Linked DNA regions of Homo sapiens: regions 2, 3 and 4 are each linked to region 1. Evidence: fine-mapped expression QTL. A gene starts in region 1. Each other region holds a variant in brackets. All regions are shown on one strand. Distances are between the middles of the regions. Region 1 holds the start of CMIP (c-Maf inducing protein). Region 2 overlaps CMIP (c-Maf inducing protein). Region 3 overlaps CMIP (c-Maf inducing protein). Region 4 overlaps CMIP (c-Maf inducing protein).

The links. PIP is the estimated chance that this variant, and not a neighbour inherited with it, causes the effect.
Region 2: its variant is fine-mapped to the expression of CMIP in whole blood (TOPMed, PIP above 0.99). The same link has a PIP of 0.9 or more in T cells, blood mononuclear cells, lung, sun-exposed skin, thyroid and tibial nerve.
Region 3: its variant is fine-mapped to the expression of CMIP in whole blood (TOPMed, PIP above 0.99).
Region 4: its variant is fine-mapped to the expression of CMIP in whole blood (TOPMed, PIP above 0.99).

Annotation. Positions count from the first base shown.
Region 1 is chr16:81,443,696-81,446,373 of GRCh38, reverse strand. It overlaps CMIP (c-Maf inducing protein), which reads right to left and starts at 1,566. Exons shown (of 21, transcript NM_198390.3): 1 at 833-1,566. The coding sequence starts at 1,132. RefSeq lists enhancers at 1-28, 2,193-2,678 and silencers at 574-873, 1,304-1,353, 1,424-1,773, 1,884-1,983.
Region 2 is chr16:81,700,285-81,702,962 of GRCh38, reverse strand. CMIP (c-Maf inducing protein) reads right to left here. Exons shown (of 21, transcript NM_198390.3): 16 at 1,163-1,303; 17 at 294-341. Among named protein-coding and RNA genes, the nearest start is that of PLCG2, 78 kb to the left of the region's middle. The variant C/T (reference allele first, on the strand shown) is at 1,556.
Region 3 is chr16:81,472,251-81,474,928 of GRCh38, reverse strand. All of the region lies in intron 1 of CMIP (c-Maf inducing protein), which reads right to left. Among named protein-coding and RNA genes, the nearest start is that of CMIP, 29 kb to the right of the region's middle. The variant A/G (reference allele first, on the strand shown) is at 1,501.
Region 4 is chr16:81,710,385-81,713,062 of GRCh38, reverse strand. CMIP (c-Maf inducing protein) reads right to left here. Exons shown (of 21, transcript NM_198390.3): 21 at 1,301-2,678. Among named protein-coding and RNA genes, the nearest start is that of PLCG2, 68 kb to the left of the region's middle. RefSeq lists enhancers at 1-159, 842-1,524. The variant A/G (reference allele first, on the strand shown) is at 1,571.

The sequences.
Region 1 (2,678 bases):
TGATTTCAGAAACAGATCAATGGTTTTTCCTCTCCGACTCATCCAGCTGACCCAGTCCTACCCATGTATTTAAAAACAATAACAAAATTAAACCTCCAGCAACAAAACACACACGTATACACACACTCTACAGACAATGCCGGACCAGGGCTCCACCAAGCAGCTTCTAGGCTAGAACTCGACCACCGCTGGGTCCTGAGATATTCCAGGACCACTGCCCCCTCCCCCTCCACTTCCAACCTCTCAATGTGCGAATGAGATTTTCAGAAAGGGAAGCACCCCGTTCTGCCTGCCAGCCCTGGCAGGAAAGAGAATAAAGGACGGGTAAACCAAACAGAGAAACTGGCTTCTGGAAATTCTTTGGGTTTGGGGGTTTGGAGGTTTTGTTGTGTTGTTTGTTTTTTTTTTTAAATCTGAGGGGTGGTATTTTGTTTTCCCCTCCCCCACCCCTCAGATCCAGATGGGCCAGGGGCTTCCAGAGAGAACCCCCACCACCATCAGGGCCCAGCGTCGGGTCCATCCTCGAGTCCCAGCCACCAGAAACACAAGAGCTGGGGGCAGAAGGTCCCCAGGCACCCAGCCTGGCGGTGGGCCGAGTCTCCAGCATTTTAAGGGTCTCTCCTGAGCCCGGTCGGCTGGTTTGGGCTTCAGACTCCAAAATCGAGCCCCGCGAGCAGGCCAGGAGCGAGGCGCCCTGGTTCTCCCCGTTCCCCCGGCACCCCCCACCGCCCCCCAGGCCCTGGGCTCCAGGTGCAGCGCCAGGGGGCAGCCAGGGAGGGCGCATCTCGGGCCCCGAGGAGAGGCGGGGGTGCAGCCGCGCAGAGCCACTCACCGTGGCGGACGCCAGGCTGTTGTCGGCCAGCGTTAGGTGGTGCGGCTCCCAGCGCCTCAGGAATTTCGAGGTGAGGATCTTGCTGAGAAAGGTCCGCGGGTGCCGGATGACACAGACCTGAATGTCGCCCTCCTGCAGCAGTTTGTACCTCATCCCGTTGCAAAGCAGAAGAGCCCGGCGGCAGGGCACGGCGCCCATCTTCGTGCCTTCGGGGGCCGACACGTCGCCCCCCAGCAGCGGCTTGGTCTCCTCGATCTGCCGGGGGTCGCCGCCGCCGCCCGAGCTGCTGGTCACATCCATGGCCGCGCCGGGGGAGGGGGCTGGGGGCGGGGAGAGGGGGCTGTCCTGGGCTGCTGGGGCGGCGGGGCCCCCGGATCCGGCGGCCCGCACCCCCCCACCCCCCGGGAAGGTGGGGGGGTGTGGGGCTGGGGGCGCCCGCAGGGGAGGGGGCGCTGCCCGCGGGGGGCGGCGCGTGCGGCGGGCTGGGCCGGCCTCGGCGCTTCCTGCGGGGCTCCGGGCTTCCTCCTAGCTCGTCGGGTGCATGCTCGCGGCGGCTGACCGGGCTCGGCGGGCGACGGGGAGGGGCGGGGGAGGCCGAGGGCGGGCCGGGGCCAGGCGCGGAGGGCGGGCGCCGGGGTGGGGGCGGCGGGGTGGGGGCGGGCGTGTCTCGGGGCCCCGCGCCGCCGCGCGCGTGTGTACAGAGCGTGTGTCCGCGCGGCCGTCCGGGCGAGAGTGGCCGCGGGCGGGGCGGGCCGCGCGCCGGGCTCCCGGAGCCCGGGGCGCCCGCGCGATTGGTCCCCGCAGGGTCATGTGCCCGCCCCTCTGACGTCAATGGCGGCAACGGCGGCGGCCGCGGCGGCTTCGGCCTCTCGCGGGCGGAGTCCGCGGTCCGGGCGGGGTCGCGGCCCACGACGGGGAGGCGCGGCCCGACGGGAGGGGCAGCCCCTGGGGAGGGGGCTGGGGCGGGCGAGCCCCGCGGGGTCCCGGCCCGCCCCGCCTGGAATGTGGGGAGGGGGCGGGGCGCGGGGGCGGGGCGCGTGACGTCACGCCAGCCGCGCCCCCGCGGGTGCCCGGGCGGGAGCCCAGCCAGGCTGCCGGAGCCTGGGGGCCCGCGCCTCACCCACCCCCGCCGCCCCCGGGCCGGACTCGGACGGGTAAAGAAGGATACCCGAGGGCCGGGGGCTGGGTGGAAGGACGGGGACTGGAACCCTCGACCCCTGACGCCCCCTCCGCTGTCCAGGCTGTCCAGCGGGCTGGCCAGATGGGGCCGTGGGACGGGGACGCCTTCCCGACTGAAAGTGTCCCCGCGGTGATCCGGAGGATGAGCCCACCCTGCCCTGTCTCCCACTGCGGGACCCAGCCGGCCTCGAACTCCTGGCCTTTGACGTCTGCTGGCTTTGGCCTTGGGGGTCCTCAAACCTTCTGGAGAGAGGGGACGGTCCGCCCATCCCCCTTCTTTCTTCTGCCCAGGGAGACAGAGCCTCTTCTAGGAACCCACTTAAAGCACCCCCCAACCTACACAGCCACCCCTCTTGTGCGCACCCCAGCAGCTCCCCCTACTTCACCTTCCCTGGGACCCCACCTGGTCATTTTATCTGAGTTCACAGGCCCAGCACCAGCCCACGAGAGAACCATATTCGATTCTCTTGTGACCCAGGGTATCAGGAACTGCAGCCTGGATGCAAAAAGCTCCCTTTCTGCCATCACAAGCAGCCGGCACCTAAGGCCACCTAGCAAATGCTCAGCTCCTCAGCCAGGTTTTCTTATCTCCACGTGCTCCTGCAGCTAATAACGTTAAAACCCTAGATTTTTGCCTTTTTAAGTGAAGGCGCCTCTGTAGTGAACA
Region 2 (2,678 bases), 260 kb before region 1:
CACACAAATGCTCAAGGTATATCTGCTATTATTCCAAGTACTATTAATAACTAGATATCAACACTATTATCACCAACAATCTGTATCATATTTTAACTTCCTTTTTGGTTTTCATTTCTCTTCCTGTAACCCAGCTACCTCCTGGAAGAGCTGGCGTGTTAAGTACTAGGGGGTCCTTGTGCCCCGCCCTCCATCACCTCCCATCTCAGCAGCAGACACCACCTGCCGTTCCCCAACAGAGAGGACCAACCCACCTTCTCCATCCAGCCCCAAAGAGAACCAAACCAACTCACTGTGGACTTGGAGGGCAGTGTTAGCCTGGTGGGCCCGCCTTTCCTTTGCTGCAACAGAAACCAGGCTGGTTACAACCATTCTTTTCCCCAAGTTTCCATTCTAGACTTCCACCTCTGTTAACAACACTCATGGAGCCATCGTTATTTTCTTGGTGGTACAAGGCAACACGGTGGTCTTGGTCTCAGGGGCAAACCCGGAGATGAGGTTTGAGCACAGGTGGTTTACTGGAGGGTGATCCCAAGAAACACCAGTGGGAGAGTGGGGAAGTGACACTGTGGCTACCTATAATGGAAGGGGTGTTATCAATCCAGCTATCACTGGGTGGGTACTGGCACCAAATCCCACCGGGGGACTCTAAGAAATGGTGGAGAAGCCATGTCTCAAACATATCTCACTGAAGGGGTGAGGGAGCTGGGGTATTTCTACACACTCTCCCCAGAAGGGACTGGTTGAGGGCTGCTCCAGGAGATCAGAAGGCATGAATTTCCTGCCCCTTCCGTCCTTCTGTGTACACATGTGTGAGTATATGCATGTGGACATACAAAGTCCTTCAGCAAAGAGGTGTGGGTGCTGGCATTTGGAAGTTGGGTCCCCCATGTACTGAAATGGAAGGGTCTAAGGGACATGGAGGAGGGAGGGTGGGCAATGTCCTGGCCAGGCCCCAATGAGCTGTGTGACTCTGGGGATTGCTTTGCTTCTCTTTGATTACCTGAAAAGTGGCAGGTGGTAATACCAATTTCTGGGGTTTGGAGGAGAATTCAACGAGATTGAGGTCCACTCAGGTCCAAGTACTAGCTGCCCCGCATCCCGCCCTGGCCCCCCCTGGCCTGCTGGGCAGGGGAGTGGTCCGGAGCAGCCGGGGACTCACCAGCTCCTTCAGCTCCCGCTGCCGGTCACACAGCTGCTCGTACATGCGCTTCCCCACGTCTGTGCTCTCCAGGGTTGAGATGATCTGCAGTTGGGTGTCGTTGTTGTCGATGATGTTGTATTCCAGCATCAAGCACAGGATCTGTCCAGAACCGCAGGGGTGCATTACGGACCCGGCCTGCCACCCTAGCTCAGCACACTCTGTGCACCCCAAGGGCCTTGTTTTGAAAACCAGCAACCCCACTATCCCCTTTCTGCAGCCCCGGCTGTGTAAGCCTGGGCAAATCACCTGCCCAACTTCCTGCTTGTACAATGGTAGCACCAGTGACCACGCACTGAGGTTCTCCAGGTTCAAATGTCAATGGACATGGGAGTCTCCCAGGCATCTGCTTAC[C/T]GTGCGGTGTCTGGACATGGGGCAGGCCCCCGGGGGATGTTTGCAGGCCCCTGAGCACTGGTGGAAAGGCCAGAAGTTAAGACACCTCTCTCTCCCCAGTTCCTTCCCCAGTGGCTGTCATGAAGTAGGTGCTCAAACTCACGGAATGGCTCAGAGCCCTGGGCCCATCTACCACACAGCTTCCTAGAGGGCCTCATGACTGCACATGTGGCTCTTCGGCCTGGGGGTCAACACGCCTGACAGCCCTGCCTCTGACATTCCCTTTCCAATGACGATTTTTTTTTTTTTTGAGATGAGGTCTTGCTATGTTGCCCAGGCTAGTTTCAACCTCCTGGGCTCAAGTGATCCTCCTACCTCAGCATCCCAAGTTGCTGGAACTACAGGTGCATGCCATGGTGCTCAGTTCTAGAACTTCTCACTCACCAAGGAGCAGGTCACTCAGCCCACGCTTCTCACAGCGCCTCTTGCCTGTCTCCTGTCTCCCTGCTCAGCCCTCCCCCATGGCCTCCGAATCCCTGTCACAGGACAGCCAAGATTAAATCCAAACTCCTTCCCAGCACCTCTAGGTACCCAGAAGGCTCTTCATGCCCATCCAGCCACATCCCAGACCTCTTGCCCCTTGGCTCCCTGTGTTCCAGCCACCCTGGCCTCCAGCAAGCCTCCGCCCGGGATGTCCCCACAGCCTGCTCAGCTCCCACCTTCCCGCTGCCTCTTCCCCAGGGCTCACATCTGCCCGAACTCTCATTTCCACGGGAGCTCCCATGGCTTTGCTGCGCCTGCCAACTCTTCGATGCTCTTCCCACTGAGGGGTGAAGTCTAGCTCCCACGGCTTTGACTGAGGGCCGGCCGCGGTGACTCACTGCCAGCAGGAGGATGTGGCAGAAGTGATGCCGCCTGCCTTCCAAGGGAGGCTAAGTTAAAAAGTGACATGGCTTCTGCCTTGGTTCCCTTGGGACAGTTGCTCTGGGAGTCTCAGGCTTCTGGGGACTTTGGGACAGTTGCTCTGGGAGTCTCAGGCTTCTGGGGACTTTGGAGCGTGCAGGGAGAGAGAGGAGCAGCAGCAGGTGAGGGGTGACCTGTGGGGCTGGGTGTGTGTGTTCTTGGCAGGTGGACAGGCTACCTG
Region 3 (2,678 bases), 29 kb before region 1:
CAGAACCACATTCAGTCCACCAGCAGTTCTGCAAAGACAAGCACTGGTCGACTCCCTCCCCGCCCGCCCCCCATGGCTGGAGGCAGGGCAGCCAGGCTGGCAGGGCCTAGGCACAGAGACTGTCCTGGGCTGGCTCCCCTGGCACCAAGGAGGCAGGAAGGGCGTGCAGGAGAGGCAGGACCAGAGGAGAGGGAGCCCCAGGAGGAGGGCGCCATGAGCACGGCCAACACTGAGGCCCCTCCGCAGGCGGACAGTGGTTCCTCCACTTCCCCCATCATTCCCCTTCCACAGAAGTGCGGTGACACGGAAGAGACCACACAGTAAGAAGACACCAGGGGCTGGGGCTCCCTGCTCCTCTGACCTGACTCAGTTCACCCCTGGGATCCTCACGCAGCACCTCCCACCAGAGGTGTGGTCTGAAGGTAGGGAGAAGCCACCATGAACCCCTCACATGAAGCAGAAGTAGTGTGCGACGTGCCTACCTGGTGGCCCCCGGTAAGCACCAGATGAATGGGAGGAAGGGAGTGAAGGAAAGAGAGAGCGGAGAAAGGAAGGGGGAAGGGAGGAATGGAAAAAGAGGGTGCAGGAGAAAGAAGGGGGAAAGAGAAGAATGGAGACAGTAGGGAGAGAGGGAGGGAGGGTAAGTCAGTGACAGACAACTCAACTTAAGGAGCAGCAGCTGGACTCCCACAGTCACCTTGCCCTCTCCAAGCCCGGGGGGTACAAAGTCCACGCCCACAAGCTCTGAGCAGGGGGGAACCTGAGTACAGTGGGCTAGGAGGCTGGGGGAGTGGAGAGGCCGTGCCCAGCCTGAAGGGGTGGCCACACAGGAACATGGGCACAGCCAGGAGTGCCCGGTTAAAGGCCTGCCTCTGCTTCTTTAGCTGTAGAATGGGGATGATCACAGGAAGCACCACCTCGGAACTGTCTGGGGATCCCAGGAGCAAAGGGATGGGAGTCGTCTAGAGCTGAGCCAGGCCTGTGGTAAGTCACATAGAAATGTTTGCTTCTGTTGTTATTATTAGAAAATGGATATCCGGAACTTTTTAGGGGAATGCTCCCAACTTTAAAGGCAGACAACTTACTGAAGCTTTAAGAAAAAAAAAAAAAAAAAAAACCACTGTGTGGGCCAAGTAAAACACGTCAGCAGACTTGACTTGGCCCATGGGTCATCCGCTTGCAGCTTCTGCTCAATGCGTCCCTGCGTCCCCGCGTCCCCCAAAGGCAGGCCCAAGTCCTACAGGGGTCGAAAATCATGAGTGAGATTTGAGATCACCCCATTCCAACACAAGCGTCCAAGCCCATGAATCCCTTAATGGGAAATAAATATTTAAGTCAACCCCCGCCCAACTCCCACACCAAAAGGACAGGAACTGCTAATTCTTACCCACTACAACCAAGTCTCCAGTTTTATTTCATAGGATGGAAAAAAAAAAAAAAAGACCTATTTTAAAAAGAAGAAGAAAGGGAAAAAGAAAACCAACAAAGACAAATTCAAAA[A/G]CGCACCACTGTTGACTTGGGCAACAGCCTCTGCCGGGTCAAAGAGGAAAACAGCTCAGTCCTGAAATCCGTCCCAGACATGGAAATTACAGAGCGGCCCCTGCTGACACCCCCTGCCCTTTCTGTGTCATTCCCTCATGAGGAATGCAATTATATGCCCCCCACGGCAAACACGAAGGAAGACACGTCAGTGACAGCCGCAGCCTGTTCACGTCGTCCTGCAGAGACAGAGGCCGACATAAGCACTTGCAGGCGGTGGCCACCAGTGCAGCAGGAGCTGAAGGCACTGACCTCAGAGGAGGCCGGGCAGGAGGCAGGGGCCGCAGGCAGGCTGGTGGTGTGGCTGAAGGTGCTATATTCACTCCCATTTTATAGATCAGGATGCTGAGGGTATGCAGAGGAGATGGGATCTATGTAAGCTTGGCCCACTGGATGCAAGGCGAACAGGCTCTCCTCGCACCTTCAGGGCAAGCAGTTAAACAGACCAGCCCCTCACACACTCACTGGGCAGCTGCGGTGTGGCCAAGCCCCGAAAGGAACAGGACAAAGTACTGGGCGCAGGCTGCAGATCACCACAGATGCCACGATGTGCCCCTGGATGTCCCTCCAGCCTCCACACCCCACTGTGCACCTCAGCCACCCCAGGGCCTCTGCACTCACCATCCCAACGGCCTCTCCACATCTGCACAGGATCAGCTCCTGCCTCCAGGCCACCTCCTGAGGGGCCTCCCATCTCTCCACCCCTTCACCCTGCCCCTCTACTGTCCTAGCACCTGCCACCTCTGAAGGGGCTCTGGTGATTGGCTGACACATTTGCGGGTGCCACCCCCAGTGAATGCTCAGGTTCCTGAGAGCAGGGCCCATGTTGGGGCACCCTAGGACAGGGCATGGCATGTAGCTGACACTCAACGGTGTCAAGTGAGTGGCTGTGATCAGTGCCTACAAGACCCAGGGGACCCCTGGGGAGATGGGCCACTCCTCCACGCATGGGGCACGCCACACACAGGATACCAGAACGGGCGGCCAGATGAGCCACCATGAAGGACACTGGAAATACGAACAGCTCATCTTCACGAAGCACTTCTGGGGTTCTGAGCCTTGCTCTCAAGTTGGTTCATACATCCTCTCATGGAATCCTGACCACAATTCCAGGTCATAAACACTGCTGCTAATCTCAT
Region 4 (2,678 bases), 270 kb before region 1:
AAAGTGCTGGGGTTACAGGCATGAGCCACCGCACCCAGCCTTCTCACCTGTCTTAAAAAGACCTGGCAGAGGCCTCTGGAAGGAGGCCACCAGGGCATAGAGAGAGGTGGGGCAGGTAGCAGAGGGAGCTGGATGGTGTGGGGACGGTGGGGGCTGGCAGGGGGCAACTCCAGACACAGAGTCTCTGGAGAGCTGGTTTCGGGCCGGGCCCATGGTGGAGAGGCAGAGGACTGGCTCGTGGACATCCTGGATTTCTGTCAGCATGTGGAGGCAGGACATGCCTGGGCTGAGGACAAGGATACCCCTGCTGAGCTGGGGGACCCTGAAGGGTGACTGGTTTAGGAAGAGGGGTGAAGATAAAGCATTTTTTCTTTACTTTTTTTTTTTTGAGACGGAGTCCTGCTCTGTCGCCAGGCTAGAGTGCAGAGGCGCAATCTCGGCTTGCTGCAACCTCTGCCTCCCGGGTTTAAGCGATTCTCCTGCCTCAGCCTCCCGAATAGCTGGGACTACAGGCACACGCCACCACGCCCAGCTAATTTTTGTATTTTTAGTAGAGACAGGGTTTCACCATGTTGGCCAGGATGGTCTCGATCTCTTGACCTTGTGATCCACCCGCCTCGGCCTCCCAAAGTATTGGGATTACAGGAGTGAGCCACCGTGCCTGGCCAAGATAAAGCATTTATTTTTGGACTTGTCAAGATTGCCTCTTGGAGACATCTAGGGGGAGGAGGCAGCTGAAGTGTGGGTCTAGGAACCTGGCATTGACCAGCAGCACAGCATCACCTGGAAACTCGTCAGGAATGCAGATTCCCAGGCACCACCTAGCGCTATGGCGTCAGTATCTGCGTTTTCACAAGACCCCCTAGGTGGATGGAAGGCACATTCCTTGGAGTAGCTCTGGGCTACAGCTTTCGTAAGGCCCTGCTGAACAGCAGCACTGACCTCAGTCTATGACACGGAGTCTCAGCTGGGGAGCGAACTATCCCCCCACGGGACACGTGGCAACATCTGGAGACACTCTGGTTGTCATAAATGGGGAAGGGGTGCTACTGCTGGGTAGAAGCCAAGGATGCTGTTCAATGTCTGGCAATGAACACAACAGCCCCCCTGCAACGAAGACAGCTCCGGCCCCAGTGGCCAACAGCAGCCAGGATGCTGAGCCCTGGTCCTCAGGAAGTGCGCACAGAAGGTGGCGAGGGCATCCCGGCACTGTCTTGAGCCTCAGATTTCCCGCCTGGGCTTCGCCCCCTCCTTGGACCTTCTCCCGCTGGGCGCCGAGAAACCACACAAAGGCCAGACATTGATGAGTCACTTACAGTTTATTTTTGCCTGAAAGTATTTCACATCTCTTTGTACACAGCTACGTGACAGTAGTATTAACCATCAGGAAAAGCAACAGTGCGAGGGGAAAGGTGGCATGTCTTGTTTCTTCTTTTTTTTTTTTCCTTTTTTATTTTTTTTATTTTTATTTATTTTTTTATTTTTATTTTTTTTGCTTCTGCTTCTTCCCGCACCAGAGTGCTGTGAAGTATGGGACCGGAGGGGGGAAAGAAAAGAAAACCAAACAACT[A/G]AAAACAACAACAAAAAACAAAACACAAAACAGAACACACTCACACACACACGAAATAAAACCTGGCACGGAAAATGAATTAAGACTGGAACCCAGTTTCTTTTTTTTTTCCTTTTTTAAAAAAATGAGGGCATAGTGGGGGGGTAATAAAGTCTACCTAGCAAAGTATAAAACGACAAAAGCATGGTTTCCATTGAATAAGATTAAATATATATAAAACAAGTACACTGACTGTGGGGTAGGTTTGGAGGTGCCGGAGGAGGGAAGTATTTGTGCTAAACCAACAGAAAAAAGGGCTGGGGGGAGAGGGGGACCCCAAATAAACCATCAACGGGCTGTTCTGTACAGTGAGGGCTTATTAAGAAAAAGCCGACTGTTTATAAAAGAAACGGAGGTTGGTTTGTCTTCGGAGCAGGTGGGGACAGAAGGAGTGTCTTCGTTGCAGTGGTCACATGTGGGGGGTGGCGGGGGTGGGGTGGGGAGGGCAGTCGGACTGGCGGAGGCGACACATCTCTCTTTTCCCAAGAGACCATGCAGAGAGGCGGGCATGCATGGGGCCACGTGAAGCACACGATGGCAGGGGGAGCCCAGGGGTGACAGAGTCTCCGTTGGGGACAGGGGACAGCAAAGGCTGACAGGGACAGGAGCTCCCTGGGGGTGGGGAACAGCTCTTTTACCGGGGTGGACTGGAGAGGGCGGGTTAGCAGCCTCCCATTCAAGTCTAAAAGGTGCCGAGAGAAAGAGCTTGGGCCTTAGTGGAGCAAGGGGATCTTAATCCCTCCTCCTCCAGCCTGAGCCCCACCTCGTGAGGGAGTTGGAGACATTTGGAAATCAGAAACGCACAGTGGTGGGTGGGGGAGTGGGCAGACAGACAGACAGACGAGAGAGCATTAGCATAGAGAATCCATTACGAAAAAGCAATTAATTTTTCCAAGGAGGTTCTTTTTTTTTTTCTTCTTTTTGTTGTCTGTTTGTTTCCTTTAAAAAAATAACAATAATACTACCACTAACCCGACAGCTGACTGGTTTATACAGTACTACACGCCAGGTGGGGGCGGGAGGGCGGTGGGGTCGGGCGGGGGGGACGGTCAAAGACTTCATAAATAAG